3 separate regions of the Homo sapiens genome follow, and regions 2 and 3 are each linked to region 1. The links come from fine-mapping of genetic effects on gene expression. A gene starts in region 1. Each other region holds a variant in brackets. All regions are shown on one strand. Distances are from middle to middle.

Region 1 (11,032 bases):
CCGGGTCAAGCAACTCTTCTGCCTCAGCCTCCCGAGTAGCTGGGACTACAGGCGCGCGCCACAATGCCCGGCTAATTTTTGTATTTTTAGTAGACACGGGGTTTCACCATATTGGTCTCGAACGCCTGACCTTATGATCCGCCCGCCTCGGCCTCCCAAAGTGCTGGGATTACAGGCTTGAGCCACTGCGCCCGGCCAGAATACTATTCTTAACTGCCAATCTTACATACAGAAAATGTGAATTACAATATACTATGCATGCAATTTTAAGGCAATTTAACGATTAAGTGAAAGTGTTATTAACTGAATTCCTTGACTTCTTGTGTCTCTAAAATTAAAGCAAAAATATTTTCATAAGGAAATTCTCCCTTATAATTATCAAAGAGCTTTAAAACATGTTAAAATGTTCACTTAACAAAAGTAAAACAGAGCAAGCTTAAAAATAAAATTATCTGATTAGAAACGTCAGCCATAAAAATGCTTGTATCTTCTTCAAATTTGTTACTCATATGCTAACACAGCGATTAGTCAAACCTCCAACTTCCTAAAAACGCATTCTATCTTAACCAAATCGTAATTCACTAATCAATGATCCCAAGAGAAACCGCAACCATTCTATTCACACACAAAAAAGGATGGTCTTCAATTACAGAAATTCTACTTTTAAAAAGTCTTGCCATGTAAGCAAATATATTTCACCTCAATTTTGGATCCCTACTTTAGAAAAAAAAAAAGATCTAAAATGTACAATATGTATCTCAAAAATAAAACATCTATTAATACCTCCAATTATTAAGATACTAGAAAAAGTTTAATTGAGCATCTGCTCAGAGGAGGAGGATCCGAGGCAGATGAGTTTAAAACTTTTGCACCGCTTCTATGGACCAGTTTTCTTAAAAAATACACAATCCTAGGGGTACACGGTCTAATATTTATAAAATAAGCACTTGTTGAAAATTACTTCCGAACAGTTCACCATAAAACTAAAAAACAGTGTTATCAATGAGAAAGTAGGTTTATTTTCCTTTAATAAAATTGTGCTCCTGGGTTCAAAATGCCAGGTTACATACGCTGCCACTCATTTCTACAGAGCTATGCTGTCTCCGCGCAGACATTCTCATAGACTTGAAAACGTAAAGTGGCCACACCACGTCAAACGTCCCTGGCAAGGTTCTGCTTATCATTAGCACCACAGATGTAAACATTACGTCGACAAAACAATCGGTGAATGTGATACACAGTCCTCATGTGTTTAAATATTAGTGAAATCTGATAAGTATTACGATTTTAAAAACGTATTTTCTTAATTCCAATTTCCAAATTGATGTCAGAGTGCCTCTAGTCCAGACAGAAACTAATGCCAGCTACCAGCTGCTATAAAGCCTCTTTCAACTTTGTCTCTACTTCTCCCTCGGAGGAAATTCAAATGAAACGCTTTTCCCTACAATAAAACAAAGAGCCTGGGTAAATGTCAAAAATCGTTGGCATCCAGTAGTGGTATAGTTTGAGGATGAGTCGTGCACACTAAGTGGGTCACAAGGCATCAAAGCAAAAATCAGATCGCTGAAAATCACGGAAACAGCTGTAGCCCGTCTTGATCTCTCGCTGGTTTTAAAACACTGTTCCCAAGCAGTAACTGAAAACGTCCCACAAGATGAACACGAACTTTCTCTAGACGAAAGGCAGCTGGGAGCAGGACGCGTCCACGAGTCCCGATGGGAACGCGCCCACGCCGCAGCTGGGACTCGGGAGAGGCTAGGGGGACCGCGTGGCCTTGCTGTGGAAGGGACCCGCGCGGGCCCGCCGCGAAGGGGGCCCTGCCTGGCGCGACCTGGGGAGAGCCGGGGCCGGCCGGGTGGAGGGCGCACGGGGACACACGGACACGCACAGACACAGACACGCGCCCCGGGCTGAGGAGGGTGGTGGGAGGACCGCCGGCCGCCCCCCGCGCGGAGCCCCAGGGAACCCGGACTCCAGCCGCAAAGCGGAGAGGCGCCAGCAGCAATCAGCCACCTCAGGGGCGGCGGAGTCCAAGCCCCTCTCAGCCGGACCGTACCGCCTAAACCCTCCTCGGGTCCTCCTTCCTCACGTATGAGGTCTCTGTACCGAGGCGGCTGGTTCCATCGCAGCCCCGAGCCAACCCGCCAATCCCGCAGGACACTAACCGCTCCGGCCGCCGCAGGTTCTCCCGGGACTGCCCCCTCCAGGGGGCCGCTGTCCCGCCCCACGCCGGGGGCCGCCACAGGACGAGTTCTCTAGCTCCAGCCGGGCGAGGCGCCAGGGAGCTCCGAACGTGGCAGGATCCACTTTTACTTTTCCAGACAAGGGCCGACGGTTGTGACCTGGCTTCTCGTGAAGTGACTCCTGGCGACAGCAGCGGAGAGGACTACCGAAGCTTGCAGTCGCGGTTTGAAAACTGCAGCCGCGTCTGGGGCATCGCCGTTCGCCAGATCCCTCCCCCTAGGTCGGGAGAGCCAATCGGAACGGGTGCGGAGGGTGGGTCTGTCACGTGACGGGAGGGGCGGGGCACCGGCCGGGGGCGCGTGTGCGGGGCGGGGCCCGGCGGTGAGAGGGTGCGGCGCCTGGCTGGCCCGAGGCGGGGCGGGGAGGCGCGGCGGCGTGGCGGCGCAGGTGGGGCGCACTCGGGCTGCCGCGAGGGAGGGGCGGAGGGGGCGGCGCTGCAGAGGGGGCGCGCGGGGCTGGAACTACTGCTCTGTGTACTCCTTCCCACCTTCAGAGAGGTCAGTTCGAGAGGTGTGAATATCCGGAGACCGGGGAGAAGGAAGCCGCAAAATTCGTCCCAGCTGCCTGCGACTAGTTACCAAACTTCAGTGCCTACCAAAGACCTATTTTCTGACTCTTCTTGAGAGTCTTCCTTAGGACCGGAACGTACCCTGTAAGTGGAGAACCCAGTTTGCTACAACTTGGCAGAGGTTCCTCGGAGTGTCAACATCAGTTGGGGATTTATGGAACCTAGACCCCACTGCTAACGTCCGCTGTCGCGAATGGTGTCCCTTCTGAGGCACTGACTGAAGGCAGTGTAGGGAGGGTCCCAATAGGCTGAATAGCCGATTTTGCATTTATAGTGCTAAGGAAAAAGATGAAAGCCCTCAGCAACCTACTCAAGATCTGTTATCCTTTGAAGACAGTGGAAATTTTCAAAGTTCTGTGCAAGACACAAATGTTTTACATAGATATATAATCCTAGTTTATATGTATAGGATACACACATACTCATACATATATGGGATTAGTTATGTAATCTAGGATTGCTTTCAGAGGACATTTACGATAATTGCAGAAAACCCTTCCGTGGGAAAGGATACTGGGAGTGGAGTCGTCCTCTTGCTTTCAAAAGACTTAATGTTCAGTTAGCATATAAAGGACAGGTTTTCTTGTTCTATCCCAGTAAGCCAAGCAAATTCCTGTGAAGCTAGCTGTTTCCCTTTCCTACTGCATTTTCCCCAAGATAAAGGTATAGAATGCATCACAGCCCTTTTATGAAGTCTGTTTGTTGTTACTTAGGTTAACTCCTCCTCCCAGGTTAATAATGTCTTGCCCCTAAACCTTGTCAAATGGAGAATATTGCTTCCATCTATCTAATTTCTTGTTGCTAACAATTGGGCTGACTAGAGAAGCCTAAAGTTAGGATGAAAATAAAATGCCACACACTGGAATTAACTTTTCTGGGGTATAAGAATCCGTAAGCAATGAGACTGTTCCCATCTTTTCTTTCATGAGCATAGGTGTTGCATTCCAGAGGTCTCAGCACCAGTACCAAAACTAGTAACCTCTTGGGGGTCACAGGATTACATCATTATGGTGGTTTTGGGGTTGTGTGTTTAACTTTGGACCTCCTTAATTTCAACATTTCATCAATTGCCAGCTTTTAGCAATCTTCTCACACTCACCCCATACTCCCCGTCACTAATCCAGTCCCAGATCACTTCACACCTAGACACAGACTTTTCTCTCTCTGGCACCACTGTAAGCCAGTCCTCTTGGTCACAATACCTCTGCTGTAACCAGCCAGCCTCCTAGGGATATTGTCATGTCTTGCATTTTCCTGCTTCTGCCTTAGCTCCAGCTTATCACCATCCTCCTCATCCATACCTGTTCATCAGTTTCTGACTTTAAGAAGGTTACCCTCTTCAGGAATCAGAACTCTGCTGATTCCTACTTTCTGTTCCCAGCCTGATCACCTCTGCCTTATGTTCTTTGGTGCAGGGCTGATAGTTTGTGTTTCTTTTATGACCCTAAATAGATTGTTAACCCTTGTGCCTGATGTCAGATTTGTTAACTAGGACTTACCACACTATCCCAAGGACATTCAACTACACTTACTTGGTCTCAGGCACTGTGGTTCAAGTAACAAGGAATTCCTGGTGCTGAGGAGGAGGCAGTACATCTGTGGCCTTGCAGGAAAATTCAGAAGTCAATACATTCCTCCATCCACCTCATTTACCTAAACTCATTCATCACCGTGTCAAAGATATATGTTCCTGCTCTCATTCCCTTGAGTAGGAAATCTCCAGGTGACCTGATGGTCATTCTGTGGTCATTGCTTCTGACCACACAGTTCATTAAGTTGACCATCCTTGAATGACACATTCCGACCAGGGATGGCGGTTGTTATGGGCTCAGTTGTGTTCTTTTCCAGTTCATACGTTGAAATTCTAACCCTCAGGAACTCAGAGTATGACCGTATGTGGAGATAGGGCCTTTAAAGAGGTAATTAAGGTAAAATGAGATAATATGAGTGGCCCCTGATCCAAGATGACTGGTGTCCTGATAAGAAGAAATTAGGACACATACAACACTGACTAAGGGACCACCCTGTGAGGACATAACAAGAAGGTGGCCATTTGCAAAGCAAGCAGAGAGGTTTCAGAAGAAACAAGACCTGCTGATATCTTGATCAACAGCCTCTAGCCTCCAGAACTGTCTGTTGTTTAAGCTGTCCGCTCTGTGGTATTTGTTATGGCAGTCCAAGCAAACAAATACAGTGGTCCTCCTGGATCACTCCAGGTTAGTAATCACACACTGACTGGGAGCGATGATCGTTCCCAGTCACTGCTTACCACATGTGGCCAGGGAAGGTGATCCTCTCCGGTAATGGCACGACACTCACCATATTCTGTCCAGGGAAGGGACCTTCCCCAGTCACATCAAGTCAGTCACCGCATACTGACCACATAATGATCAAGGAAAGTGATTCTCACCGATTCCATGTTTACTCCCTGTAGATGCAGAAAAGGAGGGTTTTGCACAGAGCAGAAGGCCTCAAACTCAAAACTCTTGCCACTGACACACCCTCCTTCTGAAGAATTCATGTGGAAAAGGCAAAACAAGCTCTACTACCTGTCTAGAACTGAATATACCAGAAACCTGTGGCTAGGCTAAAGGTAGCCAGACGCAGGCAAGGCCAACAGCCTCTGAAGGGGCGTGGCTCAACCCCCCACCCAACAGGGGTGCTCACTGAATGGAGACAGGCTCCTCCAAACAGATCCCCTCTCTGGAGGTAGGAATAGTGAGTGTACTCAGATGGAGATGTCGCAGTGCATTTACTCATGGTGCCTACAGCACATTGCAATTTTGAAAGCACTGAGAACCAGAGAGACTCTAAGAGACCTCACATCCCCTGACTCTCTTGAAACACTATTAGCAAAGCTAATTGGGGCTAGTTTTGTCTGATGAGAGTAATAACTCAGACTGGTACAAGTGTCTTCCTTAAAGGGTGACACAGCTTTCCTCTCCAAAACATCCATGATCAACTAGGGCCAATATGCCAATCCAACCACTCACTGCAGTTTATAGAGTATAACCTGTCCTGTAAAAGCTGTCCAAAAGAAATGCCACGCACATTGGCAAATGTTCTACTAGTCATATTTTAAAAAGTAAACACAGATAAAATTAATTTTAACAATTTATTTTATTTAACCCAATATTTCTAAAACATTGTCATTTCAACATGTAATCAACAAAAATTATTGAGACATTTTACTTCCTTTTTTAATATTGTCTTAAATCTAGTATTTTATACTTACAGCATGTCCCAATTCAGATGCCAAATTTTCATCGGAAACACTTGATCTGTATTTAGATTTCACAAAATTTACTGTTGCAAAAAGCAGATTCACATTCCTAAGTTGTTTTGAACAAACTAAAGTTTTTCACGCCAGGTGTGGTGGCTCATATCTGTAATCCTAGCACTTTGGGAGGCCAAGGCGGGCAGATGATTTGAGATCAGGAGTTCAAGACCAGCCTGGCCAACATGGTGAAACCCCGTCTCTACTAAAAATACAAAAATTAGCCAGGCATGGTGGCAGGTTCCTGTGATCCCAGCAACTCAGTAGGTTGAGGCAGGAGAATCACTTGAACGCAGGAGGCAGAGGTTGCAGTTAGCCGAGATTGTGTACCACTGCACTCCAGCTTGGGCGACAAAGCGAGACTCTGTCTCAAAAATAAATAAAGTTTTTCAATAACTAAATACAGTATCAGTTTCTTAATATAAATTTAATGACAATGAAATAAAATAGAAAATTTTGTCATGTTAGCCACATCCCAAGTGTTTCATGGCCACATGTGGCTACTAAGTTAGGCAGTGTAGGTCTGAAGGGCTAGAAACGTGCCTTCTAATTGTGTCTAAATTTCCAGTGCTAGAGACAATCAGAGCAGTCTGGAGCTAGAAAAATTCTTGCAGTTCAGTAACCCAACTCCCTTGTTTTAGAAGGGAAGAAACCTACAGTGAGAGAAGTTGAGGGACTTGCAAAAGATCACACACCTAAATTCGGTGGTACATATCTGAACAATAATTTAGGTCTCCTGACTCTTAATCCTAAGATATTATTTAAGCCTCTTCACATCAGACATACTTCAGAATAAAGTAATTTTTAAATTTATCTGAATCATCACTCCGATGATACAGGCAAGAGAAAGCAAACCTGTATCCCAACTGCATTCTCATAACCTGATAAGAGCACACCCTACAATATTTAAGGCACCCTCCTTCCACTCTGTCTTAGGGTCCATGTGGTTTCATCTGTCAGCTCTCTTACCTCAATGCATCACTGCTTCCTCTCCTTGGAGCCACCTGGCCGAACATCGCTGCCGCCCGCCCACAGAGCATCCGGCCACATTTTTCTGTCTGCAGTTTTCCTCTCCCAGGTGTCTACCACACGTTATTTAAGGTTGTGCTTCAGAGAATCCTTTATATTTGCAAACCAAAATATTCAGTAGAAACTACAGTAAAGTTGTAGAAGAGCTGCTATGCTCCAGCCACAAACACACCAGGCTCTAAAGTTCTACCTCGTGAGAAGCTGTGAGAGAGAAAGAGAAGATATATGTGTGGTTAAGTGTGTGACATCAGGCAGCCCTGCCTTCAAGTCCCAGTTCTGCCCATTCCTTGTTGTGTGATTTTGGGCGATCCTCAGTTTTCTCATCTGTGAAATGGGGATAATAATAATAGCTACCTCCATGAGATTGAAATGGGATAATGCATACTAAGAACAGTGCCTAACAAGAATAAACCCTTGGTTCTGTTCCTACAAGCTATTATTATTTACCAGTGCTTTGCCAGCTCCCCATGTGCACTACTGCGCCCTGTGACTAGCAAGATGCTCAAGACATTGTGGGTTCTATATAAATATTTGTCAAATGGCTTTATAAGATACTTTCGATTTTCCTCACATCTTATGGTTGATGCTAGTAGGGATCATTGGGAGAAAAATGTCATTGGAAAGGAAAGGGGAGAGGGAGGTGACTGCTTTTCCTTTCAGTATCTATCTGGTGGAGACACCCAAGTTCGGAATGAAGCTCTAAGGGTCAACAAATGGTGGAGTCCAGGGGGCCGTGTGAGATAAAGAAATTAGTCACTAGTGTTTAAAGGAAGTAGATATCAAGTGGTGCAAAGAAATAAATACAGGGTATAAATATAGGGTGCTGTCTATTTGATTTGAGTAGATAACGCCTACTAGCTCTCCCTAATAAATCTCTTCCTTTTTCACTTTGCTAAGAAACTTCCTCTGCCAACTGCATATACCATGAATGACAACCTGCTATCACATTCTCCAGGGTACATGGCAGGTACCCTTCCAGAAACCCTTCACGTAGTGAGTCTTCTTACAGCAGGCAGTAGCAGATATAGATAAGGCAGAGCCAACTTTTAATCCCCAGCAACTCCCTCATTAGGAGTGATCTTTGTGTCAACTGGTGTAAGGTGATAGCATGAACATTGAGAAGGCCAATCTACTCTGAAAGTTGAGCCATTTTGTGGCATAAAAGCATTAGTAATGTGGGAAATGGTACTATTCCTGATTATCACAGCATTCCTGACATTGAGAATATTCAAAGATTCTTGAATCTTTTTAGTAGTTGGCCTTTCCTTTAGATTTATAGAGCAGCATTTCATGGCTTCACTTTTACCGAAGAATCAGTAAGTTCAGAGCTGTTCAGAAACCTTTAAAAGGTCACAGATTATGAGAGAATGGTTCTGTAATTTACCAGCTGTGAGATCTTGACCAGGTTAGAAAATCTCTGTGCCTCTATTTTTCATCTGTAAAATGGAGATAATATACTTGCCTCATAGTGTACATGGCAACAACAGTTCATAAATAATGAAACTGGCACTGTTCTAAATGTGTTGCTTATGTTAATTCATCTAATGCTCACATCCTCCTATGAGTTACAGTGCTATATTTTCCTCCTTTAAAGATAAGAAAACTAGCCAGGCACGGTGGCTCACACCTGTAATCCCAGCACTTTGGGAGGCCAAGGCAGGTAGATCATGAGGTCAGGAGATTGAGACCATTCTGGCTAACATGGTGAAACCCCATCTCTACTAAAATTACAAAAAAAAAAAAAAATTAGCTGGGCGTGGTGGTGGCTTCTGTAGTCCCAGCTACTCGGGAGGCTGAGCCAGGAGAATGGCGTGAACCGGGGAGGCAGAGCTTGCAGTGAGCCGAGATCACACCACTGCACTCCAGCCTGGGCAACAGAGTGAGACTCTATCTCAAAAAAAAAAAACAAAAACCAGAAAACTAAGGGACGTGGAAGTTATATACTTGCTCGCAGTCATTCAAGTCCATCCTCTACTACACAGACTTTTTTTTTTTTTTTTTGAGACAGGTTCTCACTCTGTCAACGAGGCTGGAGTGCAGTGGCACAATCTCAGCTCACTGCAACCCCTGCCCCCCAGGCTCAAGTGATTCTCGTGCCTCAGCCTCCTGAGTAGCTGGGACTACAGGCGTGCATTCCACACCCAGTTTTTGTTTTTTTTTTTTTTTTTTAGTAGTGACAGGGTTTCGCCATTTGCCCAGGCTGATCTCAAACTCCTGAGCTCAGGCAACCCCCCTTCCCCCAGCCTCCCAAAGTGTCAGGATTACAGGCGTGAGCCACCACACTCAGCCTACACAGACTTTTACTGTGTGGATATTTAATAACTAGCTACTAACAAAAGAGCACACCTTCTTGGGTGTTTTATTCATCTAGTTCCTGGAGTCCTTGTTCTTTTCAGCCTTTTGTTTCTTCTCATATCTACCATTCCAAAATTGCTTTATTGTTAAAATAACTTTTCAAGTATATAAAAAATGCAAAGGGAGAGGGCTCAGAGTTAGAGACATCTGGTCGAAACTCCTGTTTAGCTTAATATAGATACAGATGTTTACATATAGAAATATTTATAGGTTATGTGTATATACATGGGTTGACATACACATGTATAGCTCCTTGCTCTGTTAGCTGAGGGTGCCTAAAAAGTAATGACACCTCAGAAACAACAGCATGCTTAGCACTGAGGTCTTAGTCTCTAATATCATTCTCCAAGAAAAGGAATCAAAGCTCCTTGGAGAAATGGCTGCTTCTGTGACTGAGGATGGAAATATACAGATGGGCCTGAAGTATCTTGTAGTCCAGAAAGAAGGAAGTGCAAGCGAACACCACCATGCAATTATGGGGGCATTCAAAGAGAAGGGAACCAGGAGCCAACTACAAGAGCTCACAATGGCCAAAGCTAGGACAATTTGAGCAACACAAGAAATAAAGCAGTAGTAGACTATAACCCAAAGTATAAAATAAATGTCTATGAATTCATACTGACATAAATAAATGGTTGAAAGAATAGACAAATCTTCCATACAGAAGAAATATGAGCAATTTATGCAGATACTCCACCCTCAAGTCGGTGGAGCATAACTCCCCACTCCTTAAGTGTGGGCTGCCCATAGTGACTTTCTTCCAAAGACTGAAATATAGGAAGAGATGGGGAGAAAGCACCTTTAGGGTGGAGAAACCTGACGAAACCTACCTCAAGCCAGATGATCAAGGTTAAGGTCAGTAGTCATAAGTCATAAGTCATGATGTTATGTATCCTTAATATAACATGATAAGTATGATACTTTGCCTGTGTAGTCTTCCTCCCAAAAACCCACAATCCCAGTGCAACCATCAGAAAATCATTAGGCAAATCCCAGTTGAGGAACATTCTATAAAATACCTGACCTATACTCCTCAAAACTGTCAAGGCCATCCAAAACAAGGGAAGTCTGAGAAATAATTACAGCCAAGAGAGACCTGAGGAGATGTGACGACTAAGTGTAGTGTGGTATGCTGGGTGGGAACCTGGAATAGAAAAATGATGCTAGGCAAAAACTAAGGAAATCTTTATTTAATAATAATGTATTAATATTGGTTTATCAGTTGTGACAAATGCACCCTTGCTAATGTAAGATCCTATAATAAAAAGGGAAATTGGTTGGGTATGAATCTAAAACTGCTCTAAAATAAAAGGCTTTGTTTAGAAAAATGAATGAGTCTGCCATTGCTTTAAATATTCAAATTTAGAGAATGTAGAACTAATAAAATAATCAAAATATAGCCCTTCTATTATTTTTGCAGTCTATTAAAAACACCATTGTACCAGTAATTTGATGCAGGTTCAATCCAATATCAACCTCCAATCAAAATTTCCAAGTCAGATAAAAGTATATGTAATAGGAATCCAGAAAGAGATCCAGAAAATTGTGTTTCAATATTA
Region 2 (11,032 bases), 73 kb after region 1:
TTGTTTCACAGAACTGAACAGAGCTGAGCACTATTCCTACACTCAGGTCAGTTCAGGAGACAGAAACTTGCAGTGGAGGACATTGGGATAGCTTTATAGCTAATGAATATACTATGCACCAACAAAGACATACTTTTCAGAGGAAAAAAATAAATCAGCCTTTTATTTTGCCTTTATTTTTGCATGAAAAGTGGCAGTGTCTTCACTATTTGTTTTAAAATGTTAAGCTTAATCATGTTTCATTCCAGGACTATGTTTTAGATGATCCTATAATTTACAAATTCCAAAATAATTATGCCGACTAAAATGAAGGCTAGTCATCCCAAATCACAATCAATTTCCTAGAGGCCCAACTGTGCCCTCTCCTTTCACCATCTATACATTATGTGGTTTGTGTCACTTTGACTTACTTTAACTTCCCTGGGCCTTGTCCATATCCTTTAGTCTCTAACTTCCTGTAAAAGTTCCTCAGTTTGGCTTCGAAATCCCGCTTGTAAGGGGCTGGAGCCCGGGCATTGGCACGCTGGGTACCTGCAGCAAACCACAAAGAGAGGACAATCTGGATTTGTGCCTCGTCCTTATGTTCATCACATCACCATGGACAAAAGCTATCACAATCAACAAGTCAAATGAGGCAACTGTCTTAACTTCTGCATTTTTGATTTCTGCAAGTTGAAGGATATAACAAACCTCAACCAAGGTCTTAAGTGACGTCCTCTTTGTGGCATTTTGGTTGAGAATAAAAATTCTGTTTGAATAGTTACAATGGTGCCCATGTGTTTCTCAAGTATGTTCCCCTTTTCAGTCGAAACTAATATGAGTCAAACAGAGTTACTCATGTCTAGTAGTAACTGTTAGGATGAAATGTCTTTGCTTGCTGCTGAAATGATATCATGGCAATTAGACAGGAAGTTGCAATGGAAAGTACATGGTATATAAGTAAGTGGCACCAAGAGTGAGGTTTTAATCATTCACTCTAAATTCCTCACCAAAAAACTCCTCATGAAACTTTTTTTTTTTTTTTTTTTTTTTTTGAGACGGAGTCTTACTCTGTCACCCAGCAGGCTGGAGTGCAGTGGTGCAATCTTGGCTCACTGCACCCTCCGCCTCCTGGGTTCAAGTGATTCTCCTGTTTCAGCCTCCCAAATAGCTGAGATTACAGGTGCCTGCCACCATGCCCAGCTAATTTTTGTATTTTTAGTAGAGACAGGGTTTTGCCATGTTGGCCAGGCTGGTCTGGAACTCCTGACCTCAGGTGATCCACCCACCTCAGCCTCCCAAATTGCTGGGATTACAGGTGTGAGCCACCGCACCTGGCCTACAAAACTTCTTTTAGATATGCACTATCACCAAGAATGATTTTAGACACATAATTACATAAATCTCATATTGCAGGGTAAAATCTTAATATAACACATAATTGCAAAAGGCACCTGTCTCACTTGCACAAAGTGCGCACTTGCACAAAGAATAAATAATATTAATATTTATTGGATTCTTTTTTTTTTTTTGAGACGGAGTTTCGCTCTTGTTGCCCAGGCTGGAGTGCAATGGCACAATCTCAGCTCACCGCAACCTCCATCTCCCGGGTTCAAGTGATTGTCCTGCCTCAGCCTACTGAGTAGCTGGGATTGCAGGCATGTGCCACCACGCCCGACTAATTTTGTATTTTTAGTAGGGTCATGGTTTCTCCATGTTGGTCAGGCTGGTCTTGAACTCCCGACCTCAGGTAATCCACCTGCCTTGGCCTCCCAAAGTGCTGGGATTACTGGTGTGAGCCACTGCGCCAGACCATTTATTGCATTCTTAACATGTGCCAAGTACTGAGAATATCTAGATTATATAAGCATATTTTATACGTTATTCAATGGTAATTATCACTAATAATATGTAAAAGTAACATTGTTTCTCTTTCCTTTTTTTTGACACGGAGTTTTGCTCTTGTTGCCCAGGCTGGAGTGCAATGGTGTGATCTCGGCTAACCCAACCTCTGTCTCCTGAGTTCAAGCGATTCTCCTGCCTCAGCCTCCCGAGTAGCTGGGACTACAGTCTTGCACCTCCACGCCCAGCTAATTTTGTATTTTTAGCAGGGACGTGGTTTCTCCATGTTGGTCAGGCTGGTCTCGAACTCCTGACCTCAGGTGATCCGCCCACCTCGGCCTTCCAAAGTGCTGGGATTACAGGCGTGAGCCACCATGCCCAGCCAATTGTTCCTCTTTCCATAGAAAAATCTGGTTTTGTGTCACTGGGTAACACAAGCAGCAGGTTGGGATAGAAAACTGATGATGAATATGGAAATCAGACACAGAGCCATGACAAAAACACTGGATATTTCCACTAAATATTTCCCAACCAATGAAAGAAACCAGAAAACAAAAGCTGGGAAGTCTTGTTCATTACATACCATGTAAGTTCATTAAAAATGTCTCTAACAAATGAGTGAACTAAATAGTTGTTATTCATTGGGAATACTATGTTAGGTTCACCAATGGATGTCCAAAATGAGTAAGGTGGGGTTGCTGGAGTGGGTTGGGGAAACAGAAATAAAACATCAAACAATTAGAGAATAATTAAGTCCTGAACTAGGTATACAGACTAGAAAGCAGAGGAAACAAAGCTATACCCCTGGGGCTATACCTAGTCCTATAGATCCCAGTTGCTTGCCCCATAATCTTTTTTGAATATTTTAAATTAATTGCCAACATTTACAAATTAAATTTCAAATTTAAAAATTCCAGATTTTTCTCTTGAAAATTATTTGGGAAATCTTGCAATGACTGGCTTGCATTTCCTTGGGGATCCAGCGGGCAGCTGCAGCTACTCTGTTAGACGAGGCATGAGCTCACCACTTTGCGGCAGCCACTCAATGACATGGCTGCCTGCCCCCCAAGCCCCGCAAGCATTTGTTAAGATCAGTGTTACACAAAAGTAATAGTAATGTTATAAAAAAGAAATGAGTATAAGTAGAGATCAAAGTGGAAAAGGCCTTAGGGAGGAAGCTTAATTGGAACCACACCTTGCAAAAGAAGGAGAATTTATATCCTAAAGTGGAACACAGCAGCAACAGCTGGCATGAGCACTGCATGTGTGTTCAGAAGACACCAAGAGAACCAAGCTAGCCTAGAGTGGAGGAGGAGTGCTGGGAGTAAATGGGAAATGAAATTGATCAGAAGGGTTGGAGCCAAATTATGACAAGAATTTTTAAAACCTAGCAGAGGAGTTTGGGCATGATGCAGTGAACAGTGCCTTTATAGGTTCTTGAGCAGAAGAATAACATACAAATGGTGTTTTATTTAAGAAATTATTTTCAGAGTGTGTTGAGTAAATTAAGGGTGGGCAAGAGGAAAGAGCCCCAGTTAGGAGTTGTTGCAGTAATTGAAGCCTGAGGGGATAAGGACTAGACTGGAGTGAGTGACTCAGAGAAACATCTACAATGTGAAATATGCACTGGGAAAAGAATAGATAAGCAAGAAAGAAGAATGGGAAGCATGATGATAATATAAAGTGTATTTAAACAATAACAACAGGTCTTACTTGTTAAGCGCCTGCTGTACATTACAGATGATGCACGTTACACAGGGGATCTTGAGAAATCCTCACAAGTCTACGAAGCGGGTATTACTAGGACCATCACACACCACTTTGCAACTAAAGAAAATGAAGGTGCAGTTTCCTGTCCAAGTCATATTCCAGTGACAGTAGATTTGGGATTTGAGCCAAGTCTATCTACCTGATGCTATGAAGAGTGTGGGAAGTGATGCAGGTGGACAAGGGCATGTGAAACTTTATACATATTGACTTGGATATGACAGCTAACAAAATGCCCTAGAGACTGAAAAATACAGGGCTGGAATTGGGGTGAGAGCTCAGGGCCACACGTGTGGATGAGCTGAGTTAGTGTGTTTATGGCACTTTATGCAGTGACTGTTGCATAAGAGATCCCACGTAAGTGTTAGCTGTTGTTATCTGCATAGAGGTGAATACTAAAGACAGGGAAATGAATTGAGATTTTACTAATGAATTTGTACAAAACTGGCTATTGACCAATAATCTGTCTGGAGATCTGTTTGTATAGCTGGGCAAAGAGCTGAGTTATGTCATAAAGCAAGTGAATAAACTTGACTTTAAAGATCTGGGAAGCAGAAGAGACTCCTAGGCAGGGGTTCTCAATCTTGACTGCACATTAGAATCACTTAGGAAGCTTTTAAAAATTCCAATGTTCAGGCCACACCCAAGATGCATTACAACAAAATGTGTAAAGACCCAGAATGTGGGGTGGGACCCAGGCATGAGTGTTAAATACAACTGTCCAGATGATTCCAATGTGTAATGTGTAGCTATGGCTGAGAACCACTATTCCCTTATAAGAAGGTCAAACATCACCAGTGAAACACATGGGCAGCATCCAGGGACTAACACAGGGCAAATGTTTCCTGTGTACCGAAAGGCATAATTTGCAACACGAAGGAACATTATCTCCATGAACACAAGGCTGCTCTCCTAGATGAATGAGGGATAGGACCGTGCAGTTCAAGTCCACTCAAGGGTGGCACAATCAGTGTCAGTGCTCCAGTCTGAGAAACTGCAGACTAGAAAACCCAGACAGGGCAGAACGCAGCTGTAATGAATCAACTTTCAAGAGCAAAATCATTGATAAGAGAGAGAAAAATGAAGAACAAGGAACTGAACGAAAATCTTTTAAGACACAAAAGAAACTTTTTTTTTTTCTTTAGACGGAGTCTCACTCTGTCGCCCAGGCTGGAGTGCAGTGGCACGATCTCGGGCACTGCAAGCTCCACCTCCCGGGTTCATGCCATTCTCCTGCCTCAGCCTCCTGAGTAGCTTGGACTACAGGCGTCTGCCACCACGCCCGGCTAATTATTTTTTTGTATTTTTTTAGTAGAGACGGGGTTTCACCATGTTAGCCAGGATG[A/G]TCTCGATCTCCTGACCTTGTGATCCACCCCCCTCAGCCTCCCAAAGTGGTGGGATTACAGGCATGAGCCACTGTGCCCTGCCAAGAAACATGTTTTTTTAAGAGCTGATTACTTTAAAAAACAGCACAGACACTAACTACTCCTATATAATTTGAGATGCTTAAAAGGACGTGGGAAATGCCATAATGCATTCCATCAATATCAATACAGACACAATAAAAATTAGCTCTGATTCTGTTTATACTCTAGGTAAAGGGATTTAATTATAAAAACTCTGAGACAGCAATTGTTAAATGCAAAAATTCTTTTGCTCATAGTTCCATCATGAAAGAAGTCATTTACACATTATTTCATTTTAAAATTATAGTAAATTGGCTGGGTACGGTGGCTCACGCCTGTAATCCCATCACTTTGGGAGGCTGAGGTCGGTGGATCATGAGGTCAGGAGATCGAGACCATCCTGGCCAACATGGTGAAACCCCGTCTCTACTAAAAACACAAAAATTAGCTGGGTGTGCTTGTAGTCCCAGCTACTTGGGGGGCTGAGGCAGGAGAATCACTTGAACCCAGGAGGCGGAGGTTGCAGCGAGCCGACATCGCACCACTGCACTCCAGCCTGGCAACAGAGTGAGGCTCTGTCTCAAAATAAATAAATAAATAAATAAAATTACAGTAAATTATGCTGTTGGCCTTTGTCAAATTCTTAATACAAGTGAGGTATAATTGCCAAGAAATTCCAGAGCAGGAATGATGTTACTTCCACTTTGGAAATACAAAATGTTCTTGGAAGATTGCGCTAATAAAATTGTGTGAGAACTACAAGTGAAGTTCTAGGTCATAATACTTTGTAGACAGAGGAATTTTATGGTCTTTACAGTCTTAAAGAAAATCAGGTACAAAAGATCAATGTTACATCAAATGAAGGGCTGACTTCATGGATAGTCAGCATTTTGCTAATACTGTGCAGGAAAAAATTTCAGTAACAGACACTAGGGAGTTTTTGCTTTGTCATTGCTAGGCAGGTCTAAAGAACTTCTATATTGTGTTACCCTATTTTCATATACTGTTACAAAATTGCATAATCATATACAAACTAAAGAATTCTATCTGACAAAATATTTCAGAAGACACTAGAAATAGCTTGGCATCCAACTCCCGGGCAGTCTCAGTCTTTTTTGATTCTGGGTGTGTGACCCAGAACCTGGACTGTTCTGATGACTAGCACTGGTTCTCCGTATTGGACAGGGGCTGGATCTTAGCCTGATCCAGCATGGCTCCATGCCTCTGTCCTGGGACAGCTCAGACGCTCATCTCTTTCCTGGTTCACTTTCAAAAAATCCCTATGACATTTAAAACAAATGCCCTGTGAGTGAATGAAAACAAAACATCAAGCACTACAATAATTTCTGGAAGGCTCCATCTTCTGGAACATAGCTCAACGCTGGAACTTAACAAAAAACACGTCCAAATCCCTGGCACAAAGCACAAGCACTGAAAACCTGGCATTTTTGCTTTATTCTCTGAGTAGTAAAAGGCCCTCGAGTCATTTCTTGGAGCTTGCTGATGTTCATGTACATACCATTTATTGAAAATAACTTAATGCTCTGACTTCTCAAACCTTGACAGAGATCTTGGCAGGGAAGTGATTTATTAAAGGGAAATGTAAAGGGTCTGCCAATAGCAGGCACCCTCTGATAGCTCTATGGGTGAGGACAAGGGAGACTAACAACACAAAAAGTTAAGTCTCTATACTATGAGAGAGACAGTGTCTGTGGCTTTCTTTTGGTCTCTGGGATCACAACTTCCCCATCCCTACCCACCCAGGGAGCATCCTTCATTTGTGCAATTTGGTTCCTAGATCATCTTTGTAGGGCTGAGTCAAGGGAAGGGATCAAACACCTTTTCTAAAAACAACTCTAAAGCTACTTCAGGGACTGTAGGAAAGGTGGGGAAAGGGAGAGGGACAGATGAGAGAGAGAGAGACAGACAGACACACACACACACACACACACACACACACACACAGAGAGAGACAGAGAGGAATAGAGAGGGAGGAAGGAAGAAAAGGAGAGAGAGAATGAGCAGAGAAGAGGAACTGTTTGTGAAAAGAGAAGATGACATAAACAGCTGGTAAAATGCTAAGACTTTGTGGTGGGAGAAAGAAAACGAAGATCATTAAGGGCACACAATGTGGTGGGAGAAATAATTCCCTCTCACAACCCATCCCCTCAAGACAATCTTTAGTAAAGACCCACAGGGCTCTTCTGTGCTCTCTGAGTGTTTTACTTCTGTTGAAGGTGACTTTCTGCTGGTGCTAGTTTCCAGGGAGTCCAGCTCTAGTCAAGTAACAAGAGCTCTGCATCATGATTCATAGGCACAATGATCCCCCCAAACCATGAAATATCCTCAATGTGCAGTGTATAGGAAAGTAAAGAGAAATATAATATATTTATGAAAGAGTTTCAGCAAATAGGGGGTCAAACAAATTCTCATACAGTTAAAATCATAGCTTTGGTTACCTGGAAAATCCACATAAGAGAGCACATCTCCAATAATATCAGATAAATTAGGTGTTATTGCATTTAATTTCCTAGAAATGTGCAGCTTAAATAAACTTCTGGGTCCCATATTTGGCATAATAAGCCACATGGTGTTTGGAAAGATCTTTTCCTTCTGGCATCACTGAGGTTGGGATTGGCATTATAATGGTCCTAGAAAAACAAACCTTCACATTCCAAAATTTTGACAAATTTTGGTGAGCACTCTAACAGCTGCAAAAAGCAGTGAGTCAAAGTTTCCAAAGCCCCTCTCTCTTCTGCACTTGAAAATACATGTCAACGTGCTTGGAATGAGGAAAAGGGGGAAAGTTTACCAGGTTCCTAGGAATTCTCAATGAAGATCATTAAAATTTATTACTGTCATAATTTTCAAGATATTATTCTCACACCACTAAAAGGGGTGAAATTATAGTCACAAGGAGGATCAGACCACTTAAAAAAATCTGTTTGAAATGTTGCTTTCACAAAACCTTCAGGAATCCTGGTAGAAGGAGAAGCTATTTTATTCAAAGGAACAGAAGATTCCTCCAGAGGGGAAATGAGGTTAGGTAGTCCTGCCCTGGTATCATGTGGAATTTGTTATAGTGACTTCCATTGATATCAGGCTGTACAACCCAGTTTCAAGATCAAACAAAGCCCACTGAAACAGAGTAGGCCAGAAATATGGAGATGATTCTTCCTGAAAATTAAAACCACCACAAACACTGCTAGCAATTTAGATATATTTGGGTTACACAGGTCTTTGGAAAATGTTTAACTCTAAATGTAAGTTTCTAGAATGGATTTTATTGTCACCAATGATTACTCATGTGCATTTGCGATGCTAAATGAGGAAGTGAACTCAGCCACATTTAGAGTGCTCATACAGTCTTGAAGAATGTGTGCAGTCTTCAAGTGCATGCCTTTAAAGAGCACGGAAGGGGCAGCATTTGGCAATTTACCTTTTCCTCAGGGAGGAGAGGCCACACAAAAGGCCTGGAAAAGGACAGCCTTGACTGGCACGAGCAACAATCCACATGGCTTCATGTCTTTAACCATAAAACACAGGTAAAGGGATGGTCCACTTTAAACCCCAGCATAGGCTCTTACTAAGATAAAGTCCACTCTGCATGATTAAATATCTAAGCAGACAGCTCTGCAAATCAGGGTTCGTATGTTCCAGTTGTTAATGGTTCAAATGTGAACAAACTACTTCTCAGAATCAAATTTCCAGAAAGAAAGAAAGAAAAAGCGACACATTAACCTTTATTGGCTACTTGTTATGTTCCAAGCACCAAGCAAAGTGTTCTCCAAAAATAATCGTGAGAGGTGAGGTAATTATTGTTATCTCTATTTTATAGAAAAAGAGATTCAGGCTCAGGGAAGGAGGTACCCTGCCTAAAGTCAGACAGTTGCTAAAAGAATGAAATTCCCAGTTGGGAATTTCATGAAGTTTTCCCCTAAACCTTTAAACTTACCTGTAGTGTCATACACTTCTTTCAGCCTGTGTCATCAAAATAGGTGTCCCTATTTTGTTCCAAAGTTGGCCTGTGTTTCTTCCTTCAGTGTCGTGCTGCCCATGAGCCTGCCTTATTCCACAAACCACTTTCCTTCCACTCACGTCCTGTGTCCTCTGCACATGTATGCTCAACTTCCCATCCTAAAATTCCTTCCCTCTCTCTTCTCCTAACTACTGTTCTATTTTGCTTTCTTTTTACCTCCAGATTTCGTGAAAAGAGCATTTGACTTCTGCTTCAGATCCTGTATCATTCTGTCACCAATCATGATCCGGTTTATAACCTATTACTTCACAGAACCTGCTTTGGCAAAGACCATTGATAATGTCATGATTTTCAAATCTAAATGAGGCCTCTTTTCAGATCTCATCCTTCTTGATGCCCTATCCCCCTTTTGAGACAGGGTCTCACTCTGTTGCCCAGGCTGGAGTGCAGTGGCATGATCATGGCTCCCTGCAGGCTTGACCTTCTGAGCCCAAGTAACCCTCCCACCTCAGCCCCCGTGAGTAGCTGGGACTTCCTGAGCCCTTTGAGCATGTGGCTCTATTGACCACTCCTCTGTGAAACCCGGCTCCCCTGAAAAGACTTTCCTAACTCTATTCAAAATCTGTTGGCTCTCTTTCTTTCACTTGCTTCTCTGTCTCAGCTCATCCCTTAAATATTGAGGTTTCTCATGACATCATCCTCTATTTCCTCTCCTTTTCAATGACTTTCTCCCCAGTTGCTTTAGTCTATACTCTAGGTTCCAGTTGCCACCAGTACACTGAACTCCTTGCTTTCAACCTCTCCTGTGCGCCATGGCTGCCATTTCCAGCTGTCTTTGGGAATCTCCCATTGATGGCCCAAAGATTTCTCAATAAAACTTGTCCAACACCAAACTCACTCAATCTTCCAATTTGAGTCTAACCATTTCCCATTCTTGGCAGAGGGTGCTACCATCTGCCTGGTAGCCTAGGTAGTGAGGGCCTTTGAATCTTCCTTGACTCTTCCCTACCTCTACTCAAAGTCCTGATGTCTCTGCATCCTACATATCCCTTCAATTTGTTCCCTGGTCCCCATCTCCACTGCCTAGTCCAGTCTTTCATCATGTTACTCTGGCTAATGCAATGGCCTCTCTGAGAAACTGTCTCTAGTCTCTCATTTTCTAATTTATCCTCCCAATTGCCACCAGACTGATCTTTGAAAAGCAGGATATTATTGGTATTCCTCTGCTTATACATTTTCAGTGGCTTCACATGGACAATAGAATAGGGCTGGCTGGGCGTGGCAACTCACACCTGTAATACCAGCACTTTGGGAGGCCGAGGCAGGCAGATCATTTGAAGTTAGGAGTTTGAGACCAGCCTGGCCAACATGATGAAACCCAGTCTCTACTAAAAATACAAAAATTTGCTGGGCATGGTGGCATGTATCTGTTATCCTAGCTACTGGGGAGGCTGAGGCAGGAGAATTACTTGAACCTGGGAGATCACGCCACTGCACTCCAGCCTGGGCGAAGAAGTGTGACTCCGATTCAAAATAATAATAATAATAATAATAATAATAATAATAATAAGGCTTCAATGACCAACCAGCCCTAGCCTACCTTTCCAACCTGAGCTTTGAGAACTTCCCTTCCCTTGTATCTATTAACTTACTTGTATCTATTTCCTACACTACTTTCATGCTTCTGTGGCTTAGCTTATGCTACCTGATATGGTTTTTTTGGATGTTTGTTCCCTCTAAATCTCATGTTTAAATATAATCCCCAGTGTCAGAGGTAGGGCCTTGTGGGGGGTGTTTGGATCATAAGTGCAGATCCCTCATGAATGGTTTCGCACCACTCCCTTGGTGATGAGTGACCTCACAGGAGATCTGATTGTTTAAAGGTGTGTGGTACCTCCCCCCTGCTCTCTCTGGCTCCCACTCTCACCATGTGACATGCTGGCTCTCCATCACCTTCTGACATGAGTAGAAGTTTCCTGAGGCCCTCAACAGAAGCCAAGCAAATGCTGGTACCATGATTGTACAGTCTGCAAAACCATAAGCCAGTGAAACCTTTCTT
Region 3 (11,032 bases), 30 kb after region 1:
AGGAGAGCAATCAGTTCTTACAAAACACCTATGAAAACTATGCATATGACCTCTATAAAATGTAAGATTGCCAACATCCCATAATAGGAATTCCATGGCTGCTTATAAATATAGATCTCAAAGAAATGTTTGGGCAATGCCTGTAAACCCATAGGCTGGCAAACCATATGTCAATCCAATGCTTTTATGACCCCCAATTTAACTTCACTCTATTGAAAATCTGATTAGTCAAGAAATAAACAAAGATGTGGAGTAATCCCAAAAGCAATTAAAATGAAGAATACCTTCTCATAAAATTAAGCAGAAGTAAGACTAGTGATGTCATGCAGTTTTGGAGATGCCATAGAAAAACTGTCTCTTAATATTAATAAGAAAATTATGCATCAGTGAAAATGCAGGCTTAGAAATATAGTTCTGAGTTTCAATTTGTGGTGTCTTCACTGATGAGGGAAAATGGAATTCTTACTACTGATCTCTTCAGTGTTGCTGATGGCTCCTTAACTGAGCTTAGTGTTTAATGATGCTGTACAAATAAAAAGCAGTGGGGGAAATACGAAATATCTGTATTAAATGCCATCCTGTAAAGTATTTGATGGATGGAAGAGAGTCTAATGCATTTTAAATAAATGCATATCATACTATCACATATAGTGAATCTTAAAAAATTATTACTTAGATGCACAGTCCTTGTAGTGGTAGACACGGCACTGTGAAGGAAGTTTGATTTAGAAGCTATTTTCTATTATACTTCTCAAGTGATGGAGTTGCTGTTAGTCATATTGTAATGTCCCTTCACCTTTGGTACATTCAGTGCAAAATATTTGGGGAATTTTTTTTACCTTTATAAAAATAAAAGGCCCTTTTGTTTCCTTGAGAGTGCTTAAAAGGATACATATTAGCATGATGCCCGAGTATGCATGGAACATGAAAATGGAATGAGTGATACATACAGCATGATAGGTAGGTTCTTATATACATCTTAAAGAACATAAACATAATGAACCTACAAAAAATAAACAGAACTCACTGTGTACTTTTTCCTGATATGCTGTGATTAATTGCTAGTTATTTTAAAATTGTTTTCATGCATTATAAAGCATAAAATCTGTCATTAGTAATTCACTGAATAATGGTTTGTCTTTAGCCATAATTACACACATACCACTTGCATATACATTGTCACAGACCATCTTATTGCAAATCTGTAAAGGTACCTCATATTGACTTGGTTTCATTTTCACTCATGTCCCATGAAAGCGGAAACCTATGGTGCACACCATGCAGGCACTCATAAGCAAGAAATGAATATTCTGTTATAACTTAGGGCTTAAATGAATGTACTTTCAGGAAATATATTTACTTTTATTATATTATTTAACTTGCTCTAATTTGGAGATTGGGCCAAATGCTGCCAGTTTGGCTTGAACCACGTTCAAGGGTAAGTTTCAAGATTCTCCTGAGTCCCTAAAAATTACCGTGGAGCTGATCATGTATGGGTTCATCTTTGTCTTGGAACATAACAAATGGAAAAAGTTTGGCAGTCAAGAACTGTTGATTGAAAGACGGTTGGGTTGTTCCCTGGGCATCAAGCTCACCCAAATCCTTCCAAGAGGACTCATCTCCAGTCCCCAAATGTGACAGAGCACTTGTTCCTGGAAAACAACAGCACATAGCTTTATCCTAAAGGAAGCATCCTCTTGAAACTTCCAATGTTCAATCATTCTTCTAGAAGGCAGCTTCTGAACCTGCCTGTCCACAGAGATGGGCATTCAGCTTCCAGGTCACTCAAGTCCAAAAGTACTGGTTTCTTCAACTGCTGTCAACAGTTTTTCATAAAGCATGGAAAAGGATGGGTAGGGAGGCAGATCCAGACGGTTAAAACATGTATGCGCTCTGAAAACACAAGAAACAGCACATAGTTTAGAACAGGCCGAGTGAAATGAAAATGTGTGTGGTGTGTGTGTGTGTGTGTGTCTGTGTGTGTATGACTGTCTTTCACATTCAAATTTATTTGTTGCCAATTTTCACACTCCTTTTGAAAAATCTTTGAAAACATTTTGACCTTAAAAATTCAGAACTGAATTTCTCTAAGGAAAAGAGGATATTTAAAAAAATATTTTATTTACATTTCACCACCATTTAAAAGCTATATTACATATAAATGACCATTTATTGAGTGGTCTAAGGATTACAAAGACAAGTTTGGTTTTTGTTTCTCTTTTGATGCTAGATTTTTTTTTTAATACACGGACATAAGGCCTTGCAAAGTAGTTCATTTTGAGTTGGCATATGCCTGGGTGTCTCTTCGATACTCTGTAGTTATGCATTTTTTCATTTTCTTGGACAGGGAAGAGGAGCCAGTGTCTCTGAGGGCCTGCCTCATGGCTTAGAGTCTTGGGAAATTCCCTGGCTGGACTTTTCTAAGTCAGTAGGCCATTGTTACTTCTTTGAATCCTGTGCTAAAATTTGCTTTCTCCCAATTCACAATAACAAAATAAGCAATTTAAATCATTACATTAAGTATTCTTTTTTAGAAATACTTCTTTTGCCAAGATAGGAAAAAAATATGTTTTCCTGTTATTTGCATCTGAATCACAATAAAAAATAGACAGTCTCCAAATAGTACATCTTATCAGGAAGCAAATCTGCACTTTTGACATGAAATAGGAAACATTCTATTCTGAATGTACAACAGCTTGTTTGGGGGACCTACATAACTTTGACTTAAAAAAAATACTCCTGAATAAGAAATTTTAGGAACTATGATTATTAACAAGCTATTTCTACAAAGTCACATGTCTATACTTTTACTCTGATAAATCCCTTTTCCTTATGAAATAAATATAATTAATATTCCTGGATGCAGTGTAATGTAGTGGGAAGACCAGAGATTTGCAGTTGGACATATTTGGGTTTGGATTCTAGCTCTATCAACAAGTGTGTGATTTGGAGTGAGTTATTAAAACTCTGAGCCCGTATTTCTCACCTTTAAAAGGGTGGTTATATAACTTGTCTGAGAAGGATGTGAGGATTAAGTGAAATAACAGAAACATGCTTAATAGAATGACTGGCTCATAGTGTTTGACCAATTAATAATAGAGGTATTGTTAGCTACATTTCATTACTATCAACAAGATTTGACTCTAATTGCCTTCAGTGAATTGCCACAAATAGTAATGACCCATGAGAATGATGAGATAATAAAGGGATAATAAAGCAGGTGTGTGGCCACATGGCTTATTAAAAACAGGAATGTGAACAGGATCTGTTATATTGTAAGAATACAGATAGAGTATTCCTTATCCAAAATGCTTGGCACCAGAAGTGCTTTGGATTTCAGATTTCTTTGGAATTTGGAATATTTGCATATATATAATGAGATATCTTGGGGAATGGGACCCAAGTCTAAACATGAAATTCATTTACGTTTCACATGCACCTTGTATACACAGACTGAAGGTAATTTTATACCATATTTACATAATTTGGTTCATGAAACAAAGTTTTGACCGCGTTTTTGACTGCACCCTGTCATATGAGGTCAGTTGTGAAATTTTCTACTTGTGGCATCATGTTGGCACTCAAAAAGTTTTGGATTTTGGAGCATTTTAGATTTAAAATTTTTTGACTAGGGATACTCCAACTGTATGAGTTTTAGGGTATAGAGATAGTACCGACTCACCCACTCCTAGTACTGTAAACTCTGGGATATATTGGTGGAAATCATCTAATGAATCTTTGCAGGCAAACCCTTTTTTGATACAATAAGCATTTCAGAATTGCATTTGATATCCTTAGACTGGAACGCAAATTGAGCCTCAAGAAAAGGTTTTACTTATTTAAAAATTCAACTTGTATACTACACTAGAGTCCTAGCAGTGGTTTATAATCTATCATCTGTGAAACACTGGAATAAAAATATTAAATAAAGATTTATCTCTGTTCCAGGGGTAGGGGAGGAAGAAGCAGAAAAGTAGAATACGTTTTGAATATAATTCTATGCCAAACTGTGTGTGTCAGACAAATAACATTTATTATCCTATTAGACTAACAGATGACACCACAATACTATTTTACAATTTTCATTTCTTTGGTTACCAATAAGGTTGAGCATCTTTCCCCCATGTCCTCTTGCTTTTTACATTTCCTGTTTTGTGATCCATATGTTCATCTCTCTTGCCCGATTAACTTTTCAGTATTTTTATTGTGATAAAATATACATAATATAACATTTACCATTTTAACTATATTTAAGTGCACAGTACCATGGCATTAGTACACCTACGTTATTTTGCAACCATCATCACTATCCATCTCCAGAACTTCTGCATCTCGCAAAACTGAAATCTGTATCCATTAAATAGTAACTCCCATTTCCTCTCCCCCTAGCCCCTGGAAACCACCATTCTACTTTGTGTCTCTATGAATTTCACTACCCTATGTACTTCATATAAGTGGAATCTTAAAATATTTGTCTTTTGTGATTGGCTTATTTCACTTAGCATATTTTAAGGTTGATGTTGTAGCATGGGTCAGAATTTCCTTCCTTTTTAAGGCTGAATAATGTTCCATTGTATGTATATACCACATTTTCTTTATTCATTCATCCATTAATGAACAGGAGTTTTTTTCCTACCGTTTGGCTATTGTAAATAATGCTCCTATGAACATGAGTGTACAATTATCTGTTTAAGTCCTCCTTTTCAATTTTTTGGGGGATATACACAGAAGTGCAACATCATATTGCATTTTTCATAGTGGCTGCAACATTTTACATTTCCATCAACAGTGCACAAGGGTTCCAATTTCTCTACATCCTCACCAACACTTATTTCTTGTTTTTTGTTTGTTTGTTTGTTTGTTTTATAATAGCTATTGTAATGGGTATGAAGTCCATTCACCTTTTAAAGCCTTAGGATTTCTTATTAAAATCAAGAGAGACTCTCACTGTTGTTGAATTTGAAGAAGGAAGCTACTATGAATTCTATAGCTGCAAGGAATGAATGCTGCCAACAACCCAAGGGAACTTGGAAGCAGATTCTTCCCTAGTTGGTCCTCCAAATGAGAATGCAGCCCCACCCACAGCTTGATTTCAGCCTTGTGAGACCATGAGCAGAAGACCCAGCTAAGCTGTGCCTGGATGCCTGCTCCATGAAAACAGTGAGATCATAAATGTGTGTTGTTTTACACTGCTAAATTTGTGGTAATTTGTTTTGCATCAGTAGAACCAGTAACAGGTCTCAAGGTAGTGAAACAGTTCAAGAAAAGGTGGCAAATGTGATGTTAAGTGTGATACAGTAGAATCATCTATCCAGGACAGGTGGTGAAACAAAGCTAGGGGTTGGCAACAGTTCTTTCATTCTCCCAGGTTTCTGAGTAGAGAAACAGGAACTTTGAATGTCTCTTTGCCATTTCTGTAGTATCTTTGCAGGTACTCTAGAAGCTTATCCAGTAAATCCACAAGCCTAAATACTCTTTTCAGTTCTCAACACAAAGGGAAGGCAAAGGGAAGGACTAGACAACCTTTTTTGTTCCTCTGCAGTCGTAAGACATAATCAGCATTACTAATCCATAATCTAAGGCTATTGCTGCTTCATAAATTACATCTGGTTGCATAATATATGGTTACCATAACACAACTTTCCTTCTAATAAACTAAACAGCTCCTCTGGAAAATATTTCGCGATGATGGGGAAAGCATATATTGTGGAGGGGGAAACTGTGTGGAAAGATTAAATGGTTTTCCCAAGGTCAAAGCTGAGTCAGTGGCCAAATCAAGAAAAGGACCTCAGTTCTGGGTCTCCTAGGGAAAGTCCAACATTAAACTGAAAGCGGGGAGATTAATGCTCATGGCTTCATTCTTTTACTTTTGGAAGCCTGAGTATTAATTTTATCCTACCTCTGACTACGAACTATTATTCCTCAACATCCTACTAGATTATCCACATTTTGAGGACAAGGATTGGCAAAATAAAGCTTCAGATATTTTTTAAATGAATAATTCAATCACAATATGCAGTAGCTCTGGGGAAAATGGCTGAGATTGAGTCAATCCAGAAAACCCTGAAAAATACCAGGGGATTTTTAGGTGATCATACCATCTAGCTCAATCTCAGGCTTAATAGAAGAAGGCAAATACTCAAAAGGATACTTTAGAGTGTATCAAAATCACTCCAGGAGCTTGTTTTACAATGGAGATTTTTGGTTGCACCCCTTGTGATTGTAATTCAGAAGGTTTGGGGTGGGCCTGGGGGAATATGCATTTTAATAAATATGCCAAGTGAGTCTGATGCAGGTGGTCTCCACTATTGGAGAGGCATCAAGTGGATTAGCAACATGATACCTACATTGGCTATTTGCACCAGTGTTTTATGTGCTTGCAGAAATTTCAAAACTCCTTATAAACAAGACAGCATTGCTAATAAGGAAATTGAGGAATAGTGTGGTTAAATAAATTGCCCAATATTTACCATCAACTTGCTCTATGAGCCAA[G/T]GCCAGGAAAAAAACAAAAAAAATGGCAAGCAACACATAATCCTTGGAGGCTTTTCACACCCCCACTCCCACCCCATTCCATGTCCTAAGAAAACTTTAGCAGAAAATAACAGGAGGGCCCTGGACTGTGTTGATGTTGGCAGCAAAAGTGCATCCAGCTATTCAGTCTCAATAAAAGAACATTTTTCAAATCTTTCAAAGCCAGTCACACTAAAGCTATAATGGGTTTACCTCATTTTAATCTATTTAGCCAGAACCACTCAAGGAAAGCAGGTCTGAACCCATCTTTGGGAAATCATGCTGGCATCAATATTAAGAAGATTTAAAAATTCTCCAGACATCTGGTCTGACTTAATAGATCTCTTGGTGCTTTCTGGATTCTTCAAAAATGTTAATCAGGAGGTCACATGCTTACCCTCCCTTTTTCCCTACAGATAGACAAGTCAATTAGATAAATCCAGTGAGCCAAAAGTATCAGTTACATTTCCATTTCCATAGATTGGTTTGTTGATTAATTTCTCTCTCTGTATGTGAATGTACTTAATTTTCCAATTTGCATTATATTTCATTTATTCCTTCACTCGCTGAATAAGTACTTACTAAGCATATACTCCATGCCAGGGATTCAGCTGTCCTCTGAGAGATGAGGATGAAAAGTCTGGTTTCTGTCCTCAAGGAGTTTACACTGTGGCAGCAAAATATACAGGCAAAAAGACCCTCTAAAGTTTGTGTATCCTGTGCTCTGGGGCAAGCAGGAACTGAAATCCAGCCTTCCTTTGGCTCTGCTTGCCAAATTGTGAGCCCTAGCTGCAGGCTGCATTTCTCCAAAAGGCTAGGAGACACCTTTGTTTCATTAGTCCCAAAGATGGGCTATTAGTGGCCCTGCATACAAACAGTTAATAATACTATGAGTTACAAGTTTGCTCAGCAGAGCCAAGGAAGGTTCATAGAGGACACTATCTGTGCCAAGGCTTGAAAGATTTGTAGGTGTGCAGGTTTTCTCTGAATCAACAACAAGGAGAAGGATGTTCCCAGCAGATGGAACATGACATTGCATCATCAGGAAACCTGAGAGGGGCAAGCGCCTAAGGGACAGGAGGCAAGGTTGGACCTGAGGCCAGATGGGGAGGCAGGGACACATCAGGAAGCCAGGAGTGTTCTTGCAAAAACCTTTTCCAGTTATTTCATGGATGAAAGAAAGAAAAGTGGGTTGGCAGAGGTATCTTTAAATAAGGCAGGGAATATAGGAAATGGGTAGAGGGACAGATGATGAATTCAAGGGCGTGAAATCAGCATGAGAAATCCAAAGTTACCAATTAAATAGAGTGATCGAATTCCATTAAAGGAATCCAGTTATAGTTTTGTTAGCCTGGGTAGCTTTATTAACACAACTAATGGTAAAACTTGTTAGAATTTTTAAAATATTCATAATTTATCTAATATCCTCATGAATACCTTCTTAGGCCATGAGGTTTAGAGCAGAAATTCCTATTAAGAGTAGGGCACAAATATGTGTGTAACTTATGGCAGCAGAGCACAATGCCCTGACCTTCACCAGGTGTTCGGTAAAGGTGAATTCATGGAAAGAAATTCTATGGTGCTTGCTATTCCAACTACTCATTGGTCATGTTCCATTTTGGGACCAATGATGTTGGTTATCTGTTCATGTAAATATCCATTGCTTCTCTCCCTGTGTTTTAAGGTCAACGTATATCTCCCACAAGGTTCGGCACTTAGTAAAGCCATGAGGAGTATCTATAGACGGGTGAGGGGAATTAATCTATTCACTAATTAATGTCTTATTCCAAAGTCTCATTAGGTCACTTTGGTTAAGGTGCACTTGGATCTGTAAATACAAAGTGGAATATTCCCATAGGGGGGAATTCCTGTATCTGGGGTAACTAGCAGAAGAAACTCTTCAAACTATGCATTCTGAGCAGGTACCTTCTTCACTTGTGAATGCCTCTGGGGAGAGATAAAGAGGGTACATACTTTTCAAATGTAAGAATTTAAACCAAACAGAACAAAGTCCAGTAAGGACAGTTCCAGGAATGGAAACCCCTGTAAGTCCAAACAAAATACAAACACGCTGGGTGAATATGGCACATTTCTCACACACCTAAAGACTATAAAGTATCCGGCCAGCCCTGAAGGCTAGATATTAGGAAGAATAGTAAGAATGGCTAAATTTATTGAATGATGTTTTAGGCCTTATTCTAAGCACTTTGCATGTTATCTCATTTAATCTTCAAAACAACTTTGTAATATAAATGCTAATTTCTATCCCAACTTTTCAGATATGGATACAGAGATATGAAAGTCTGGATTATGATTTTGGAATTTCTTGTCTGGAGTGGTCCAAAGTTATCCCTAAAGATTTCAAATTCACTAAAAACAATATTTATGGAGTACATGTGCTAAGCACTGGGCTCACTGCTAGGAGCAAAGCCATGTTTAATTCAGATAAGGTACTTGTTCTCACAGGATTATACTCCAGAGGAGGAGACAGATAATCAACAAGTAAACCAATAACTGAACATGATGACTGAATTGGGTCAAGCCTAGTGAAGGAAGTAAGGGGTGAAAGAGTGACAGGTGCACTAAGGACAGAAGCCTGGTGGGCCTTTCTCAGGAGATCACCTCTAACCCGAGTCTTGGGGACAAGAAAGAGCCAGGCATGAAGGACCAGCAGATAAGTGTTATAGGCAGCAATTCCCTGAGCCTTGAAGCATAATTGAGTTTGGCATATTTGAGGAATACACAGAAGGAGGCTGGTAGGTGTCATGGGTTGGGGGAGAGGGTACATGTTGAGGTTGCAGGAGGAGGCAGACCAGGGCCCCACAGGAAGTCCTTGGGAAGGAGTCTGGATTTTATTCTAAGCCACCAGAGGGTGTAGGCAAGGGAGGGAGGTGACCTTGAGATGTTTGCAGATCCCAGTGGTTGTTGAGTGCAGAATGAATGAATGGTGGGATGCAGGAGAAGCAGGGGATTTAGCCAGCAGTCTACTGCAGTAGTCCAGGTGAGGGGGGATGGTGTCATGGACTAGGCTGGTGGAAAGAAATGAGCCCAAACTGGTTTTTGCTCTTGAGGCCAAGGAAAAGTGGGTAAGCATTCTTTAACTGTTGCAATGTCTGTCACTCACAAATAGACACTTTAAAATCTGACTTGTGAAATAGCTCTCAAGGACCTTTAGTAGATTTGACTTGGACTATCCTGTCCTCTGTTGTCAGCAGCAACAATGCTGATGGAATGCAAGTGGAATGATTATCTCATTCCATTAAAGTCACAAATTCTTTCAATAGCTTGACGTTTTACATTAATTACAGAAGAGTCCCTTTTTTTAATACAATCTGTTTTTATGATAAATTTACCCACCTCCCAAAGTAAAGACCAATCCAAAAGGTATATGACATTTAAGAATCTTTAATATGGTGATGTGATGGGTTAACTCTGGCATGTTTTTGTTAGTACATGCAGATTCAATGGCAGAATAAAGTGAAAATTTAAAATACAGTTATATAGAACTGAGTGAGAGGGCAGAGGGGAAAGGAGTTGAAGAGAGTCTTGGACCTGAGGTTCAACTACAGAGCAGACCACTGTATGAGAATCTCCTGTCAATTCTCTCCCACACGAAAAGCCACATCAGCTCATCAGCAGGCGGTAGGGAATTAGGAAGACCAACGAGGGACACCTCAGGGCAAATATAGAAAGGAGATGGCCCCAAAGGGTCCTTCTAGTACTCATCTCTTGTTCTGATGGTTTTTCTTTCTTTCTTTCTTTTTTTTTTTTTTTTGAGACGGAGTCTGGCTCTGTCGCCCAGGCTGGAGCGCAGTGGTGCGATCTCGGCTCACTGCAAGCTCCGCCTCCCGGGCTCCCGCCATTCTCCTGCCTCTGCCTCCCGAGTAGATGGGGCTACAGGCGCCCACCACCACGCCCGGCCAACTTTTTGTATTTTTAGTAGAGACGGGGTTTCACCATGTTAGCCAGGATGGTCTCCATCTCCTGACCTCGTGATCTGCCCACCTTGGCCTCCCAAAGTGCTGGGATTACAGGCGTGAGCCACTGTGCCCAGCCTGGTTTTTCTTTTAATTGAGGAAAGTGACATTGTATTTCAGGACTTGGTTATTTTCCGGTATACTGGCTGATAATTCACTTTGACAGTAGACAATGCTCCCTATAATGGAGGAGGGAAAACTGAATTATTGATAACATTACAGAGCAATATTTAATGACATGGAAAGATGTTCCATGTGATAAACGGAATGTTGTTTTAAAATGTGTGTGTGTGTGTATGTGTGTGTCTGTGTGCCTGTGTGTACCTGAAGAAATGAGTGAAATCACATACTCTAACATGTTAACAGAGCTTATCTTAGTAATTGACTTTTTTTTCCTTCAGAAATGGTATCTCTCTATGTTGCTCAGGTTTGACTCAAACTCCCATGCTCAAGCCTTAGCCTCCCAAGTACCTGGGACTCCAAGCATGCACCACCATGACCAGCTAGTAGTGGACATTGGGTGGACATTGGATTGATACATATG

Alleles and levels. Alleles are on the strand shown, and positions count from the first base shown. SD is a standard deviation of normalised expression in the study named. Not every link is listed here.
In carriers of allele T in region 3, the expression in tibial nerve of the gene that starts at base 2,411 in region 1 tends to be higher than with G alone (small effect, 0.21 SD a copy in GTEx).

What was found. PIP is the estimated chance that this variant, and not a neighbour inherited with it, causes the effect. A credible set is the group of variants that fine-mapping cannot tell apart.
Region 2: its variant is the best candidate, but not a certain one, in a credible set for the expression of STK17B in whole blood (TOPMed, PIP 0.74).
Region 3: its variant is the best candidate, but not a certain one, in a credible set for the expression of STK17B in tibial nerve (GTEx, PIP 0.89).

What each region holds. Positions count from the first base shown.
Region 1 is chr2:196,169,168-196,180,199 of GRCh38, forward strand. It overlaps STK17B (serine/threonine kinase 17b), which reads right to left and starts at 2,411. Exons shown (of 8, transcript NM_004226.4): 1 at 2,166-2,411. LOC101927454 (a long non-coding RNA gene) reads left to right here and starts at 2,372. Exons shown (of 2, transcript XR_923737.2): 1 at 2,372-2,464; 2 at 2,738-3,681. RefSeq lists silencers at 1,737-1,956, 2,477-2,706 and an enhancer at 7,134-7,393.
Region 2 is chr2:196,241,674-196,252,705 of GRCh38, forward strand. It overlaps HECW2 (HECT, C2 and WW domain containing E3 ubiquitin protein ligase 2), which reads right to left. Exons shown (of 29, transcript NM_001348768.2): 20 at 411-531. Among named protein-coding and RNA genes, the nearest start is that of HECW2-AS1, 13 kb to the right of the region's middle. The variant A/G (reference allele first, on the strand shown) is at 4,934.
Region 3 is chr2:196,199,496-196,210,527 of GRCh38, forward strand. It overlaps HECW2 (HECT, C2 and WW domain containing E3 ubiquitin protein ligase 2), which reads right to left. Exons shown (of 29, transcript NM_001348768.2): 29 at 1-1,893. The coding sequence ends at 1,782. Among named protein-coding and RNA genes, the nearest start is that of STK17B, 33 kb to the left of the region's middle. The variant G/T (reference allele first, on the strand shown) is at 6,494.